Regions from separate parts of the Homo sapiens genome. Here region 2 is linked to region 1. Evidence: fine-mapped expression QTL. Tissue or cell type: lymphoblastoid cells. Region 1 holds a variant in brackets; the other region holds the start of a gene. All regions are shown on one strand. Distances are between the middles of the regions.

Region 1 (8,564 bases):
AATTTATTTCTGGGCTCTCTATTCTGTTCTAATGGTCTATGTGTCTGTTTTTATGCCAGTACCATGCTGTTTTCATTATTATAGCTTTATAGTATATTTTCAAGTCAGGAAGCATGATGCCTCCATCTTTGTTCTTTTTGCTTAGGTTTGTTTTCTATTTGGTATCTTTTGTGGCTCCATATGAATTTTAGGATCAGGTTTTTGAAAACAGGAACAAATTTAAGTACTCCCCTTCAGTGTGTATGCCTTTTATTTCTTTTATCTTGCCTGATTGCTCTAGCTAGAACTTCCATTCTTATTTTGAACAGAAGTGCTGAAAGTGAGAATTCTTGTCTTATTCTTCATCTTAGAGAGAAAGCATTCAGCTTTTATCCACTCAGTGTGAGGTTAACTATTGAGTTTGACATATACGGCTTTTATTGTCTTGAGCAACATACTTTCTATGCCCACTTGTTAAGAGATTCTATTATAGAGGGATGTTGGATGTTGCTGAATGCATTTTCAGTGTCTCAAAATTATTATATTGTTTTTGTCTTTCTTTCTGTTCATGTGGTGTATCACATTTATTGATTTTCATGTGTTAGATCATTCTTGCATCCTGGAATAAGTCACACTTGATCACAGTGAATAATCTTTTTAATGGGCTATTGAATTTGGCTTGCCAATATCTTGTTTAGAATTTTTGCATCTATATTTAGCAGAGATCTTAGCCTGTAGTAGTCTTTTTTGTCATGTCTTTGTCAGATTTTGGACTCAGGATAATACTGGCCTCATAAAATGAGTTTGGAATAATATATTTCTCTTCAATTTTCTGAAATACTTTGAGGAGAATCAATATTAATTCTTTCTTAAATGTTCTATAGAATTCAGAAGTGTACTTCTCAGATCCTCAACTTTTCTTCAATGAAAGGCTTTTTATTACTGACTCCATATTCTCACTCATTTTTAGTCTTTTCAGATTTTCTATTTCCTCATTATTTAATCTTGGTAGTTTATGTGTTCAGGAATTTATCTACTTCTTCTAGGTTATCAAATTTGTTTGCAATATCATTATTCAAAATAGTCTCTTATAAGCCTTTATATCTCTGTGTTTATCAGTTGTATTTTACTCTTGTTGCCCAGGCTGGAGTGCAGTGGTGAAATCTCAGCTCACTGCAACCTCCGCCTCCTGGGTTCCAGTGATTCTCCTGCCTCAGCCTCCCGAGTAGCTGGAATTACAGGCACCCACTACCACGCCTGGCTAATTTTTTGTATTTTTAGTAGAGACGGGGTTTTGCCATATTGGGCAGGCTGGTCTCAACTCCTGACCTCAGGTGATCCACCCACCTCGGCCTCCCAAAGTGCTGGGATTACAGGTGTGAGCCACTGCACCAGTCCATAATGTGTCTTTTTTAATCTCTGGTTTTAGAGTGTTTTTTACTATTCTACCTAAAACTTTGTCAATTTTTTTTTCCAAAAAACAAACTCTTCATTTTATTAGTCTTTTGAATTGTTTCAGTCTCTATTTCAATTATTTTTGCTCTAATTTTTATTATTTCCTTCTTTCTACCAACTTTGGTTTCAGTTTGTTTTTGTTTTTCCAGTTTCCTGGAGTACAATGTTAGGTTGTTTATTACAAATCTTTCTTTTTTATTGATGTTGGCATTTATTGCTATAAATTTTGCTCTTAGAAATGCTCTTGCTCTGTCTTGATATGATGTTTTTCCATTCTTATTTGTCTCAAGAAATTTTTAAATTTTCCTTTCAATTTCCTTATCGTGATGCCTCTGGCTTTGTTCTTTTTGCTTAGAATTGCTTTGGCAGTTCAGGCTTCTTTTTGATTCCATGTGAATTTTAGACTTTTTTTTTTTTAATTCTGTGAAAAATGATGTTGGTGGTTTTATAGGAATAGCATTGAATGTGTAAATTGCTTTGGGCACTATGGCCATTTTAACAATATTGATTTTTCCTATTCATGAGCATGAGATGTTTTTCCATTTATTTGTGTCATCTCTGATTTATTTCAGTAGTGTTTTGTAATTCTTGTTGTAGAGTCTTTCATCTCATTGTATGCTGTATGTCTAGGTATTTTATTCTTTTTGTGGCTATTGAAAGTGGGATTGCATTCTTGATTTGGCTCTAAGTTTGAACATTATTTGTGTATAGAAATGCTACTGATGTGGGTACATTGATTTTGTATCCTGAAAATTTACTGAAGTTGTTTATCAGTTCTAGAAGCCTTCTGGCAGAGTCTATGGGGTTTTCTAGTTATAGAATCATATTGTCTATAAAGAGAGATAGTTTGACTTCCTTGCTTTCTGTTCGAATGTATTTTATTTTTTTCTCTTGCCTGATTGTTCCGGCTAGGGCTTTCAGTACTATGTTGAATAGGAGTGGTGAGAGTGAGCATCCTTGCCTTGTTCTACTTTTCAAAGGGAATGCTTCCAAATTTTGCCCATTCAGTATGATGTTGGCTGTGGGTTTGTTTTAAATGGCTCTTATTATTTTGAGGTATGTTCCTTTGATGCCAAATTTGTTGAGAATTTCTAACATGAGGGAATGTTGAATTTTATCAAAGGCCTTTTCTGAATCTGTTGAGATGATTACATGGGTATTGTTGTTAATTCTGTTTATGTGGTAAATTACATTTAATAATTTGCATATATTAAAGCAACCTTGCATCTGAGAAATAAAGCCTACTTGATTGTGTTGAATTAGCTTTTATCTAACTTCAAACTATATTACAAGTCTACAGTAATCAAAACAGAATGCTACTGGTATCGAAACAGACACATAGACCAATGAAACTTAATAGGGAACACAGAAATAAAGCCACATATCTACAATCACCTGATCTTTGATAAAGTCAACAATTATAAATAATAGAGGAAGGACTTCCTATTCAATATATGGTGCTGGAATAACTGGCTAGCCATATGTAGAAGATTGAAACTGGACTCCTTACTTTAAACACAGACAAAAATTAAATCTAGGTGTATTAAAGATTAAATGTAAGACCCCAAATGATAAAAACCCTAGATGAAAATCTAGGAAATACCATTCTAGACATGGTGGCAAAGAATTTATTACTAAGTTCTCAAAAGCAATTGCAACAACAACAAAAATCAACAAGTGGGACCTAATTAAGCCAAGGAGCTTCTTCAAAGCAAAAGAAACTATCAATAGAGAAAACACACAACCTACAGAATGCGAGAAAGTATTTGCAAACTATGCATCCAACAAGGTCTAATACTCAGAATCTATATGGAACTTTTCAATAAGCAAAAAACAAGTAGCCCCATTTAAAAAAAATAGACAAAGGACATTAACAGAGACTTTGCAAAAGAAGACATACGTGCAGTCAACAAGCAATATGCTCATTATTACTAATCATTAGAGAAATGCAAAGCAAAACCACAATAAGAAACCATCTCACACCAGTCAGAATGGCAATTATTAAAAAGTCGAAAAACGACAGATGCTGGCAAGGTTGCAGAGAAAAGGGAACACTTATACACTGCTGGTGGGAATGTTAAATTAGTTAGCCACTGTGGAAAACAGTGTGGAGATTTAGCAAAGAACTCAGATAAGTTCAGAGCTACCATTTGACCCAGCTCTCCCACTATTGGGTATATACTCAAAGGAAAATAAAAATTTCTACTAAAAAGACATATGTACTTTTATGTTCACTACAGAAATATTCACAATAGCAAATACATGGAATAAACCACCATGCTTGTCTATATGAACTGGATAAAGAATATGTGGATACATACAACATGGAAAACTACACAATAATGGAAAAAGGATAAATTCATGTCCTTTGCAGCAACAAGGATGTAGGTGGAGACACTTATTCTAAGTGAAGTAACACGGGAATAGAAAACCAAATACCACATGCTCTCACCTATAAGTAGGAGCTAACCACTGAATATACATGGACA[T/C]CCAAAAAGAAACAATAGACATTGGGGAGTGCTTTAGGAAGGATGGTAGGAATGCAGAGTGTGGGTTGGAAGGGTACTTATCAGTTACTGTGTTCACTACCTTGGTGACAGCATCATTCGTACACCAAAAAACCTCAGCAATATGCAATTTACACATGTAACAAACCTGCACATGTACACTCAGAAACAAAAATTAAAACTTTTTTTTCATTGATCTATTGGTTCTTTAGAAGTATATTGTTTATTTCTATGTATTTTTACACTTTGCATGTTATACTGTTGTTGATTTCTAGTTTTATACTATTGTGATCAGAAAAGATGCTTGATATAACCTCTATCTTCATTTTTTTTTTTTTTTTTTGAGATGGAGTCTTGCTCTGTCACCCAGGCTGGAGTGCAATGGCACAGTCTCGGCTCACTGCAAGCTCCTCCTCCCGGGTTCATGCCATTCTCCTGCCTCAGCCTCCCTAGTAGCTGGGACTACAGGTGCCCACCACCACGCCTGGCTAATTTTTTTGTATTTTTAGTAGAGGCGGGGTTTCACTGCGTTAGCCAGGATGGTCTGAATCTCCTGACCTTGTGATCTGCCTGCCTTGGCCTCCCAAAGTGCTGGGATTACAGGCGTGAGCCACCGTGCCCGGCCTATCTTCATAAATTTTATAAGACTTCTTTTGTGGCATAACATGGGATCTACTCTTGAGTAAGTTCTGTGTGCAGTTCAGAAGAATGTGTATTTCACAGCTGTTGGATGGAATGTTCTGTAAATATCTGTTAGGTCCATTTGGTCTATGGTGCAGTTTAAATTCAATGCTTCTTTGTTGTTTTTCTGCCTAGATGATGTAACTATTGCTGAAAGTGTGGTAGTGAAGACCTCCACTTTTATTGTATTGCAGTCCATTTTTCCCTTTAATTCCAATAATATTTGCTTTGTATAACTGGGTGCTCCAGTATTTGCTGCAGACGTATTTACAATTATTATATTCTCTTGCTGAATCAATCCCTTTATCATTATATAATGACCTTCTTTGTCTCTTTTTGCAGTTTTTAACTTAGAGTCTATTGTATCTGATATAAGTATTGCTACTTCTGCTTGCTTTTTATTTCAACTTACATGAAATATCTTTTTCCATTCCTTCACTTTAAGTTTATGTTTGTCTTTAACAATGAGGTGAGTCTCTCATTAGCAACATATAGTTAAGTATTTTTATTTTCATCCAGCCTCTATCTTTTAAATGGAGGATTTAATCTATTTTCATTCAAGATTATTATTGATAGGTAAGAATTTATTCTTTCCATTTTGTTAATAGCTTTCTGGTTGTTTTATAGATCTTTTGTTTCTTTCTTCCTCTCTTGTTGTTTACCTCTGTGGTTTGGTAGTTTTCTATGGTTTTCATTGTTTTATTTCTATGTATCATTTATATATCTGCTGTAAGTTTATTTTGTTGTGGCTACCATGGGGCTAATATAACGAGTCTTGTAGTTATAATAGACTATTTTAAGTTGATAGCAACTTAACTTTGGTTGTGTAAAAATACTGTAGACATTTTCCTTCCCCTCTCACAATTTATATTTTTGTTGCCTTAATTTACTTCTTTATCTATTGTATTTCCAACAGTTACCCATTGTAACTGTTATTGTTTTTGATCGTATTGACTTTAAACTTTTATACTAGAGTATTGAAAGATTTACCAGTGCATTAGTACACCAGTGCATCACTGGGGTATTCTGAGTTTGATTTATGAATTTACCTATACTGGTGAGTTTTGTACTTTCACATATTTTTATAGTAGTAATTATTGTCCTTTCATTTTCAGTTAGAGCACTGTCTTAAGCATTTCTTGTAGGGCTGCTCCAGAAATGATGAATTCTTTCAGGTTTCACTTATCTGTAAAAATCTTATTTCTCCTTTTTTTTTGAAGAATAGCTTTGCTGGATATAGTATTCTTGACTATCAGGGTTTTTGTTTTGTTTTGTTTTTGTTTCTTTTTACTCTGAGCACTTTTAATATACAATTTCCTTCTCTCCTAACCTGCAAGGCTTCTTCTGAGAAATATGCTGATAGTCTAATGAAGATTCTCTTGTATGTGACCTGAGGATTTTCTCTTTCAGCTTTTATAATTCTCTTTGTCTTTGACTTTTTATAATTTAATCATAATGGGCCTCAAAGAGAACCTTTTAGGGTTAAATCTATTTTGGAACTTTTGAGCTTCCTCAATTTGATGTTGTATCTCTCCTAATTCTTGGAAAGTTTTCAGTTATTATATCATTATATAACTTTCCTATGCCACTTCCCTTCTTTTCTTATTCTCAAACTCCTATAATGCAAATATTTGTTCTCTAAATGGTTTTCCATATGTTTTTAGGCTTTCTTTATTCTTTTTTTATTTTTGATGATTTTTTTCTCTGACTACATTATTTCAAAAGACCTGTGTTCAAGTTAAGAAAACTTTATTTCTACTTAATCTACTCAGTTGTCAATGCTCTTAATTGTATTTTTTATCTTATTGTTTAAATTTTTCAGCTCTAATAATCCTTTTTGTTTCTTTTTTATGATATCTTTCTTTATTGAATTTCTTATTCAGATTATGGATAGTTTTCCTGATTTTTTTTTATTTGCTTGTCTGTGTTCTCTTGCATCTCACTGAGTTTCCTTAAGATCATAATTTTGAATTTCTTTTCAGGCATTTTGTAAATGTTCTTTTCTTTGGGGTCAGTGTCTGAAAACTTATTGTTTCTTTGGGGCTGTCATCTTTCCTTGCTTTTTGCGTTCCTTGCTTTCTTGTGTTCCAACATTGATATCTGTGCATTTAGTGGAACAGTCACTTTTTCAAGTTATCCAGAGTACCTTTCTTAGGAAGAGACTTTTTCCTATAGATGGGTTTTAGGGTATTAGTTGGGTTTGATGCATTGGCTTTGGTTCTGAGTAAACTCAGTAGCATGGTCCTTGTGCAGTTTCTTCATCTGTAATCTTCATCATTAATTTCTACAGTTCGTTTAGTTGCCTCAAATGCAGAAGTTTTTGAAGCTAATGGTGTGTGTTTGCTGGGGATGTGGGTGCTGGTTGGTTGTGGGTTAGGTATGTGATGCGGCAAAGGGCCAATAGGCTGCCCAGTGGGCTCTCTGGGGAGGTAGGAATTGCTGCACACATGGACACAGTTGCCTGGGAGGCTTTGTAGCAGTCTCTCTGGAAAGACAGAACTGCTTCCAGACAGAACTTCAAGCTGAGCATGAGAGTCCAGGTGTGGCTGGGCCATATGGTTCTGTGGTAGTCTCCCTGGGGAGGTTGGGCTGCCATTAGAACAGTTATCATGCCAGGCATGAGTAGGTATGGGTAAAATGGAGCCAGGAAACTCTACAGTTATATGCTCAAGAAGGTGAGCCACTGCCAAATCAGCTGTCAGGCTGGGCATAGGTGTGCATGGGTCAGGTGAGGCTGGGTGGCTGTGTGGCAGTTTTCTCAGGGAGGTAGGACTGCCACTGTGCAAGCTGTTTAGCCAAGCATTGGTGCATGTGTGTTCAGTGGGCCAGCTGCTGTTCAATAGCTTCCCTGCTGTGCAGATCTGCCAGTTCTCTGGAAGGGTGGGGTGCTGCATGGGTTTCGACACTTTGGTCTCAGTTGTTTCATCTTGCCTAAGTTCCATGCAACTGGGGTCATGGTGCTACAGGCACCTGCATGAACATGGTGGAATAACAGCAGGGTCTCAGGGACATGGAGAGTCAGTTGCCACTAGTCCCCAGATCAGGGCACATCCTAGCAGTGGGTTTGGTTTCAAGATGGTCCTATGCCATAGCAGCTTAGGTTGTGAGGATGGGGATGTTCAAGGTGGGCTTCTACTCTGATATGACGCAGCTACCTGTACTCCCAGCTACTCTCTAAGCTGGATTCACAATCTACTAGGATTTGGGGCCTCTCCTGTAGCAAGAATTTCTGGCATTTATGGCAGCAGTGAGAGCCATTGGGGATCTCCAGCTTATTCCTTCTTTGTAAGAAGGCTCTCTGACTCCAAACTGATTTCGTTGGAGAGACAGTTTGTCAGAGGCAGGATACCTTGCTCCCCTTCTATTGTTTTATTCTGAGATTTTGTGCTCCGCAGGAATTTTGCCACTCCCCTGGCACTCTTTAGTATATTTCCCCAGTCACTCCAGTCAAACATAGTTGGTTATCTTGCTGACATCACTCCTCTGTCTCTATCTTTAAAAAAAAATAGTATTGCATGGTAGAAGAGAGAAGATATACCTTTTTTAAAGATTAGCTTAAGGCTCACTATGCCTCTATAAATTATAGTCCCTTTCACTTTAAGCCTTAATAATGTACTTATTGGAAACGTTTTATATGTTATAATAGTTGTTTGAAAACTATTAACCTCTTTGGTTAATTTGTCACTTTCAAACAATTGCAATGCATAATTTACCACTGTTAAACAATTCACCAATTTCTAACAAAGTTCAGTTGTACCTTCATAAGTACCTTTATAAGAGTGCTTACCATACAACAATAAATCACAATGTCTATCACATCATAATAAGCAAATAACTTATTTAATTGAATACTTTCAAAATATATATGTTTTTGTTAGAGAAAGTATGAAGATGGACAACCTTTTTTAAATGATGTAGATAAAATAATTTATAAAGTCTTCT
Region 2 (8,240 bases), 920 kb after region 1:
TGACATGCACAAGAGCACATGGAACCCTCTCAATAAATATTCTGCCAAAGAATATTGAAAAATGGCTTATGCTGGAACATGACGCCCAATGGAAATACGGTACCAATATATAATATGTGTTTAAAAAGGTGTCATTCTCTCAATCCGAAGGCCTGTGGACCTAACAATTTTCTAGTAGCAGTAATGACTCATAGGAAGTCACTGCAATACACTTTATGTTCTTCTGCATCAGTCTTGGTCAGTTAGCACCTTGCACTCTCAGAGGTGTCCAAACTGGAATGCAAAGTCCTGGGGCATGTGCTAAGACTCTATCATAGGAATCCACACTTCTATGGACTATAGAAGAAATTAAACTCTTATTTATTTTTTATCTCATGCTTTTAAATTTTGTTTTTGTAAATATATGATTTATAATAATAAATAATAATCTATGCAATGGTGCATTTTTTTTTTCTTTTTTGGTAGAGACAGTGTCTCTCTATCTTGATCAGGCTGGTCTCAAACTGTTGGTCTTGAACTCCTGGCCTCAAGCAGTCCTCCTGCCTTGGCCTTCCAAAGCACTGGGATTACAGGTGTGAGCCACGATGCCTGGTCCAGTGGTGAATTTTTAATGTGTACATGAATATACATATTGAGACTACATGCTCAAACATTTTACTGATAGCAATGTGTGATCTAAAAGTTTGAAGACCGTACCTCTAAATAATTCTGCTAAGCTAAGTGTAATTCAACAAAAATATCTTGTGACCATAAAAATATGAAGAATGTTTTCCTATGGTTGGAGGTTGGGGATAAGAGTGGGGAGTAGGATAGGCTTTTCTATTTTTCACAACATAGTTCTACTAGCAAATAATGCACAACACTTCACTCTGCAATTAAATGTAGCAACTCCTGTCGACTTTTTTTCCTTTTCAAAAAGGAGCACAGTGAAATTCTAAGAAAGTTTTTTTGGTTTTCCCTCCAATTCCCTCTTGCCTCTGAAGTTCATGATTTGGAGGGAAGGGTTGTCAAATTACTCAAAACCTGTGCTGGGTATTAAAAGTCCTCGGTTTAAGTTCCTTCTTCATTATCATTCTGTGCAATATGGAGCAGGCTATATAACTTGTCCCTGACTCATTTCTCCTATGGGTAAACTAGAGGTGATAATACTTAGCACTGACCTCAGAGCAGTGTAGTGTGGATAAAGAACATTTTGTTCCTTGTGTCAACTAAATGAAACTGCCATTAATAGACTTTTTTTTTTTTTTTGAGACGGAGTCTCGCCCTGTCCCCCAGGCAGGAGTGCAATGGTGCAGTCTGTACTCACTGCAACCTCCACCTCCTGGGTTCTAGTGATTCTCCTGCCTCAGCTTCCCGAATAGCTGGGATTACAGGTGCCACCACTACGTTCAGCTAATTTTTGTATTTTTAGTAGAGACGGGGGTTTCACCGTGTTGGACAGGCTGGTCTCGAACTCCTGACCTCAGGTCATCCACCCGCCTCCATCTCACAAAGTGCTGGGATTACAGATGTGAGCCACCGCGCCCACCCCTAATACAAACTTTGATATTATCTGTTTAAAATGCTGTGATTGGCTGGGCGCTGTGGCTCATGCCTGTAATCTCAACACTTTGGGAGGCCGAGGCAGGTGGACCACCTGAGGTCAGGAGTTCGAGACCAGCCTGACTAACATGGTGAAACTCTGTCTCTACAAAAATACAAAAATTAGCCAGGCATGATGGCAGGTGCCTGTAGTCCCAGCTTACTCGGGAGGCTGAGGTGGGAGAATCTCTTGAACCCGGGAGGCGGAGGTTGCAGTGAGCTGAGATCACGCCATTGAACTCCAGCCTGGGCTACAGGGTTAGACTCCATCTCAAAAATAAAATAAAATAAAATGCTGTGATTTTTTATATACTTTTCCTTTTAAAAATGATTTTTCTAAAAAAATAAACATCACATTTCTAAATACCACTTTGTTTTCTGAACTTTTTAAACTTTTCTGATTTTGTTTCTCTTTCTCCCTCTTACACAGGAGTGCTCACATGCACACATACACTCTTTTAACAACTTTATGGATGCGAGAGAAAAACCTTAAGACAGCATCAAGGAAATAAAAGGGGAACTGAAATAAGTTGCCCTAGTTGGGTTTTCTTTAAGTTTTAAAGCTACTTACCTAGGCCATAAAATCGTAGTGTTTATGTAATCTCCAAAATGTTTGTATTTGAGAATAATTCACCAACTCTTAAAACGGAAGGAACCCTAAGAAAACATCTAGGCCTAAGATAATGCCTGACACATAGTAGATGCTGAATAAACATTTAATTGAGGGAATCTGGAAAAGCTTCTTATTTTAATCTTAAAAATCAAAACCAAGTCTGAGCATTGGAGAGGTTAAGTAACTTGCTCAAGATTGCTCAGCTGGTTAAAGAGTTTAATCTACAATTTATTCCTTCTAATTTCCAGCTTTGACTTCTTTCCACCAACCTGTTGACTTATGTGTATTGAACTGTCTCATATAATCTTCTGAAGTTGCATTGTTGAAAAACAATCAGAAAGACCAGTCCTGAGGTTCATCATCTCCAAAAGTCATGCAACATATGATGTTCACATGAGATGTGAAATATGTAAAGAGTCATATATTTTTATATATAATATGCAAAATATAAATCATGTATATATTGAATCAAAGGTCTGTTTTGAAGGCTAAGGGTCAATAGCCAATCTTCCATGACTTATTTTACCTAACAGCACAGTTTGCATGTCCACACAGGTGATGGCAGTCCACTGACCAGTTAAAAGTTGTTTGGCTATTTCAGCAAAATGTTTATCTTTGTGTGTTGTTATATTGATTTTTTTGAATCTACCTACGAATGAGGCACTAACAACCTCAATGCATTAGAGTCCTGATAAACTTATCTTGCACTATTTTGGCCTATGTGATAGCTAACCCATTGACAAAAGAAATCCAAGGTGATAAAAGCCTTTCTTGGCCACTTGTTAGCCGGGTCAGGCTGTAAAATCGTAACACAATGCAGGCCTCTTCCATGGGGCACCAAAAGGCAGCGATGAAAAACCCCCCTCACTTCCATATCCAGTGGAGTTGTAGTTTATTACCATAACCCTCCCAAGTCAAAAGGACACCAGTTTCAAGCCTTGCAACTTGGTGCAGACAGGGGTTTTCCCCTTTACCCCACTCTGCTGGGCCTCTTTACCTGTCCTCTCCTACTGTCTACAGGTCCCGAACATTAGAAAATAGAAAATGTGATGATCTTTGTGTGTCTCTGTAAAATGTGTGTATGTGTGCGTGTGTTTGGGTGTAACGGGCCTCTTGTTTGGCTGCGCGGCCTGTCCGTCACTGCGCGGGCCAATGGCAGGCTGCCTTATATAAAATGAGTGTTTTCAGTCTCTCCGGGTTGCATGTACTGTATGTGGAGCAGTGTACAGTGAAGCGGAGGCAGAGCGGCTCCGCGAGCTTCTCTCCACTTTCCCATAGAGAAACCCTGACTGGCCGCTGAGGGCTAGCTACACACACGCCCTCACGCCCGGCGAGCCCGCGAGGTAGGCGCCCCCCATCCCCAGCCCTCCCTGGGCGCACTCCCCTCACTTTCTGTTTTCCTACTCACTTGCGAGCCGCCGGGCTGCAGCCCCAAGGACTCCGCGGCAGGAGCAGCGGCGGCGGCGGCGGCGGCGGCGGCGGCAGCCGGTAGGGTGGACTTGAGGAAGACGGAGGGAACCCCGCGCGTCCGGAGCCGCCGCCAGCCGGCCCGCTCCCTGGGCACTTTCCCCCTCCGCCAAAACTTTGGGTCGGGAGAGGTCGGGGGCGAGGGTCGCGGCGGCCGCGCCGGCTGGGGCCGGGGGGCGGGGGGCGCTGAGGCAGTGCCCTGCGAGCGGGAGGCTGGGGGCCGGGCTGGGGAGTAGTAGGCCAGCCGGTGCCAGGCTGCGTTTGCAACCAGCACCTCTCGGCACACAGGCAGCGCCGCCTGAGAGGGGCACGGGCGCCGGGGCGCGGGCTGGAGCGGCCCCAGGAAAACAACAACAGAGCCCTCACGCCGGCGGGCGGCTCGTGGCCGCCCGGGGAGCCCCAAACTTCATCTCGGCGAAAGTACGTGGAGCCCTGCCTGGTCTCGGCTGCCGGGGAGGTGGGGCCTGGGGAGCAGGGGCAGTGGAGGAAGGTACGAGGAGCCAGCCTTCGGTGGATTTATTGAACGTTTCGTCTGCGTTGGTGACCGGGAACAGCAGCCCAGTTGCTCGTTCATCTGGAGAGTTGGGATTTGGGTGTTCCGGCCCCGCAGATCAGTGCCCTCTCACCCCCCACCCCTACCCAAATGCGCGGCGAGTAGAGAAAGTGCTGTTTTAGTGCCAGAGTAGCCTGGAGGAAGAATAGGGGGAGAGGGGGAAGAGGGCGAGGGAGAAGGGGAGAGAGAAGAGGGAGGGAAGGGGGGGGAGAGAGGGAGACAGAGAGAGAGGGAGAGAGAGAACGGGAGGGAAGAGAGGAGGGGGAAGAGGAGGAGGGAGGCTGTGTCAGGATTTTGCTTGAATGTGGGATTATGTTGTGTCAATAAGTTTAAGGTGGAGAGAGCGAGGCTGAGGGTGGTGGTGGAGGGGAGGAGGAAGGCCTTGGCCGTTTAAAGTCTTATTTCTGAAGGTAAGTTACGGCTTTGCCTGGTCGCGATGACAGAAAACTTGCAGATCCTTTATCCGGGGATGGGGTCGATGCCTCTAGAAAGAGCTCCCTAGCCCTCTTAAGCCACACTCGTGTTACACTGTTATTTGCTGCGATCCGGGTCGCTAGTAAATTACAGAAATCAGACTCGAGGTTTCTTTTCCTCCTCCACCTCGTCTCGCTCACTCACCCTCTGAAATTTATTATCATATTTTATTTATTTTTTGGTATTGTATGAAACTTAACATAACTGAGACCGAACCCGAGTCCTGTAATTTACAAGGACCCTGAATCCCAGAATCTGGAACACGTTTATGTGTGAAATAGCCGCGATCATTTCTGCTAAATGAGGAAGGTAAAACGAAACGATGCAAAAAGCTAAGACACAACATGTACGACAGAGGGGGGGGGGGGGAGAGGGAGAGACAGAGAGAGAAGCTATTTTTTGCTTTCCTTTCTGTAGGAAGGAAAATAAAGCGTGCATTCCCCTTCCTTCCCAGTGTGTAGGGTCTAGTCAATATTTTAACTGTCTGTGGACAAATTAGTCCAGGTGGATCTTGTTGAAAAGTTTCGCGAGGTGGGGTGGAGGTGGGGGGGGGGGCGAAGGGGAAGGTGGGTGGAGGTTGTGGGGGATGGGGACGGAGCGAGCTCTGCCTCTGCTAATGGTCATTGGCCTGGGGCTTTGAAACCATTGCCTGTCCTGCTAATGACACGTCCAGTTCTCTTCTCCCGGCCGCGGACGCCGGGCTGCCGTTCCCGGGGTGGCTGACTGGGACTGGGGTACTTTCCCCGCGCGGGGAGGGGCGTTCTTCGCCATCTCCTGGGGTTGCCCACTGGCGGCGTGGGGGCCCCCACGCGGCCCCCCGCCCCTGCGCGCCGCCGCCACCTCTGCTCGCGCGACTTTTGTAGGCAGCCAGCGGCCCAGGGGCGCCGGGGGTCCCCGGCGCCGACGTCCCCGCGCGGCCACCCCGGGTCCGGCCCCACGCGCTCTGCGCCGCGCGGTCCAAGCCCGGAATGGCAGCGCCGGGCCGGGCGCCGGCGGTGCCTCCCTGGGGGGCAGCGGAGGCAGAGGCAGTGGCGGCGGGATCTTCGCCGGGGCCCGCGGGAGGAGGAGGAGGAGAGGGAGAAGGAGGAGGGGAAGAAGGAGGAAGAGGAGGAGAGGGAGGCGTTTTCTGCCCAGACCGCCGCCAGTTCGAGCAGGCACGGGCACGGGGACACCCCACTCGTTGCTCCTCCGTTATGGAAAGGTGTTTAGCAGACTTTTACGCCCGGAGTGTGGTATTTGCACTTCATTTTTTCTTCCCCCCTCTTTCCCAAAGCAAGATGGACTCTATTCCCTTTCTCTTTCTCCCACTGCCTCTGCCTCTGTCTTGTCAGCCTTTAAGATCGACATTTTGTACTAAGATGCAAACTTGATGGTGACCAGCAACAAAGCCGGGGTGGGATCCCTCGCTCTCTTCCTCCCTCCTTGTTTCCTAGCTCCCCCCACCCCGACCTCGCAGACCTGGTGGCCCTGCACTTGCCGCTGTGGGCTTTGGCGAATGTGTTTTCCCTGGTCGGTTCCTATCTCCAATCTGGGGATTGTGACCCGGGCTGGGTGTTTGGGAGACGGCAGTGGCCGCCCAGGTCTGAAAGGCTGAGGGCTTCGATACCTGGACCCGCTGCCGCCGCGGTGGCACCTCCCGCCGTCTCCTGGGCAAGGCGAGGCTCGGGCTGCCTATCGATCCCTATGATTTGGTTACTGGTGTGTTTGTCCTGGGGGCGGTGATCACTTGTGCAAGTTGATGAATGATCGCGGTGTGGTTTTTGCGTTTGCAGAATGGATCAACTTTCTGCTTTGTACATGTGGGGAGTAGGAAGCGAGGGTACGGGAGATACCCTAGAATGCCAGTTGGGTTGCCCCCCAGCCTCTGCCCTTTCAATACGGGGAGCTTCTTTGCCTTCTGTTCCCACAGTTCTCCAGTGTCGGGGGGTGGTAGAGAAAGGGGAGGGGTTAGTGGGAGCTGGACTCCTGGGTTTTGGTACCTTCTCTTCATAGATGTTACAGGACTTGGGACTGTACTATTGTAAAGCCCTACTATACTGATGATGTACCTTTATTTGATACTTTATAGGTCACTATCATATGACAAAGGCTTTGCCGCAGTTCATCTTCCTCCCTGTGTACTTTCCATTTGCCTTCCTGGGTAAGTATGCAAACTGTTCGTACAGGGAAGCAGGATGACAATTAGTAATGACATAAGGGTCTTTATTGTTCACAGAGGAAGATGCTTTATTGGGGTTACAGCACCCCAGAAACCTTGTCTCACTGAGTTTCCCACAGCATAAGTCAGTTTATGATTCTTAGTGTTTAGAATTCAGCTGTGGGTTATTATTAAGATAGTAAATATTCATTTTGTGTTTATCTACAAGTAATTGTCGTTTCAAAACTTATTCTCAAATAGACATTTTAATTTATAATGAAATTTTACATGGCATTGAAGGTCTAGTAAATTTAATGCTAGACAATACTATAGGAAGAGTGCAGTGTATGAGTGGAGAGAATTATTAAAAACCCAAGGAAGCATTGTGCAGAAGTCCTCTAATTATAGTGACTGACATTTGCTTACTCTCTCTCAAGTTCTCTTTCTTGAGTAACCTGTGGTGTTTGTAACAGTTACTTTTGGGGTGGGGAAAGGTGGGATTGGCAGTGTGGTAAATCTAGCGTTTAGTGCACTAATTTGATTCAAAATTGATCATAATTTCTTTTAAAACTTACATGTTTGGAGAAATTAGGAACAATTCGGTAGCCTGTAAATTTAATAAACAAAGACTTTGAGATCTGTTGTTAAGTGCCTTTTTCAGATATATGACTCCCAAGTGGAAAAATCTGCAAAATATGTGTGGGACAGTAAGTGTGTGGAAAATTTGTGAGAGGTAACAGTGTGGGTAAGAACTGAGGGTTTACAGAGCATTTGAAAGCAGCACAGTGAGCCTAATCTGCAGAAAACCACCTTGTAAGTTTGCCCCTCCATTGTAAAGGAACACCCCAGGTACTCTTGAGTTGTTGATGTTTGGAAACTAGTACTAAATTGTGTAAATCAGCTGTAGTGCTTTGTAATATTACCATAGTGAATTTAGAGATTGTATTTTGTGAATGAAAATGAACTTGAACTTACTTTTCTGTGAAAGAAAATTTAGAGACCTCATCTGTGGTGTTTCCTGGATTGCTGACATAATGTGTACATTAACAAAATTATTGTCTTTGTATTAAGAATATAAAACTGTTGTCTTAGTATTGAGTTAGAGGACTAGACCTTTCTGGTAGTGTCCATTTGGTAACAAAATATACTTTCATGTTATTGAAGACTTTAGATAATCTATGTAAGTTTTGCATTGAACATTTAGAAAATCTAGAGAACTTTAGATAATCTGTATATGTTTTGCATCGAACATTTTCTATGGAATATAAATATTGCATTACTGCTGATAATTAGGTGGTTTGTTCACTAAGAGCTCAGAATACATCACATACATAGCAGGCCAATCGGAGTGTCAAAATGAGAAGGTTCTATAAGTTGAATTTAGTGCACACTAAAATACATGGATTTCATTGTCT

Which allele goes with the higher level. Positions count from the first base shown, and alleles are read on the strand shown. Sizes are in standard deviations (SD) of each study's normalised expression.
As copies of T replace C in region 1, the expression in lymphoblastoid cells of the gene that starts at base 3,392 in region 2 goes up (large effect, 0.79 SD a copy in GEUVADIS).

What was found. PIP is the estimated chance that this variant, and not a neighbour inherited with it, causes the effect.
Region 2: it holds the start of BBX, and the variant in region 1 is fine-mapped to the expression of BBX in lymphoblastoid cells (GEUVADIS, PIP 0.95).

Annotation. Positions count from the first base shown.
Region 1 is chr3:106,597,072-106,605,635 of GRCh38, forward strand. All of the region lies in intron 2 of LOC101929485 (a long non-coding RNA gene), which reads right to left. Among named protein-coding and RNA genes, the nearest start is that of LINC00882, 640 kb to the right of the region's middle. The variant T/C (reference allele first, on the strand shown) is at 3,924.
Region 2 is chr3:107,519,571-107,527,810 of GRCh38, forward strand. BBX (BBX high mobility group box domain containing) reads left to right here and starts at 3,392. Exons shown (of 18, transcript NM_001142568.3): 1 at 3,392-3,537; 2 at 6,757-6,828. RefSeq lists enhancers at 3,009-3,058, 5,932-5,981 and silencers at 3,459-3,768, 3,799-3,888, 3,999-4,068, 5,522-5,731.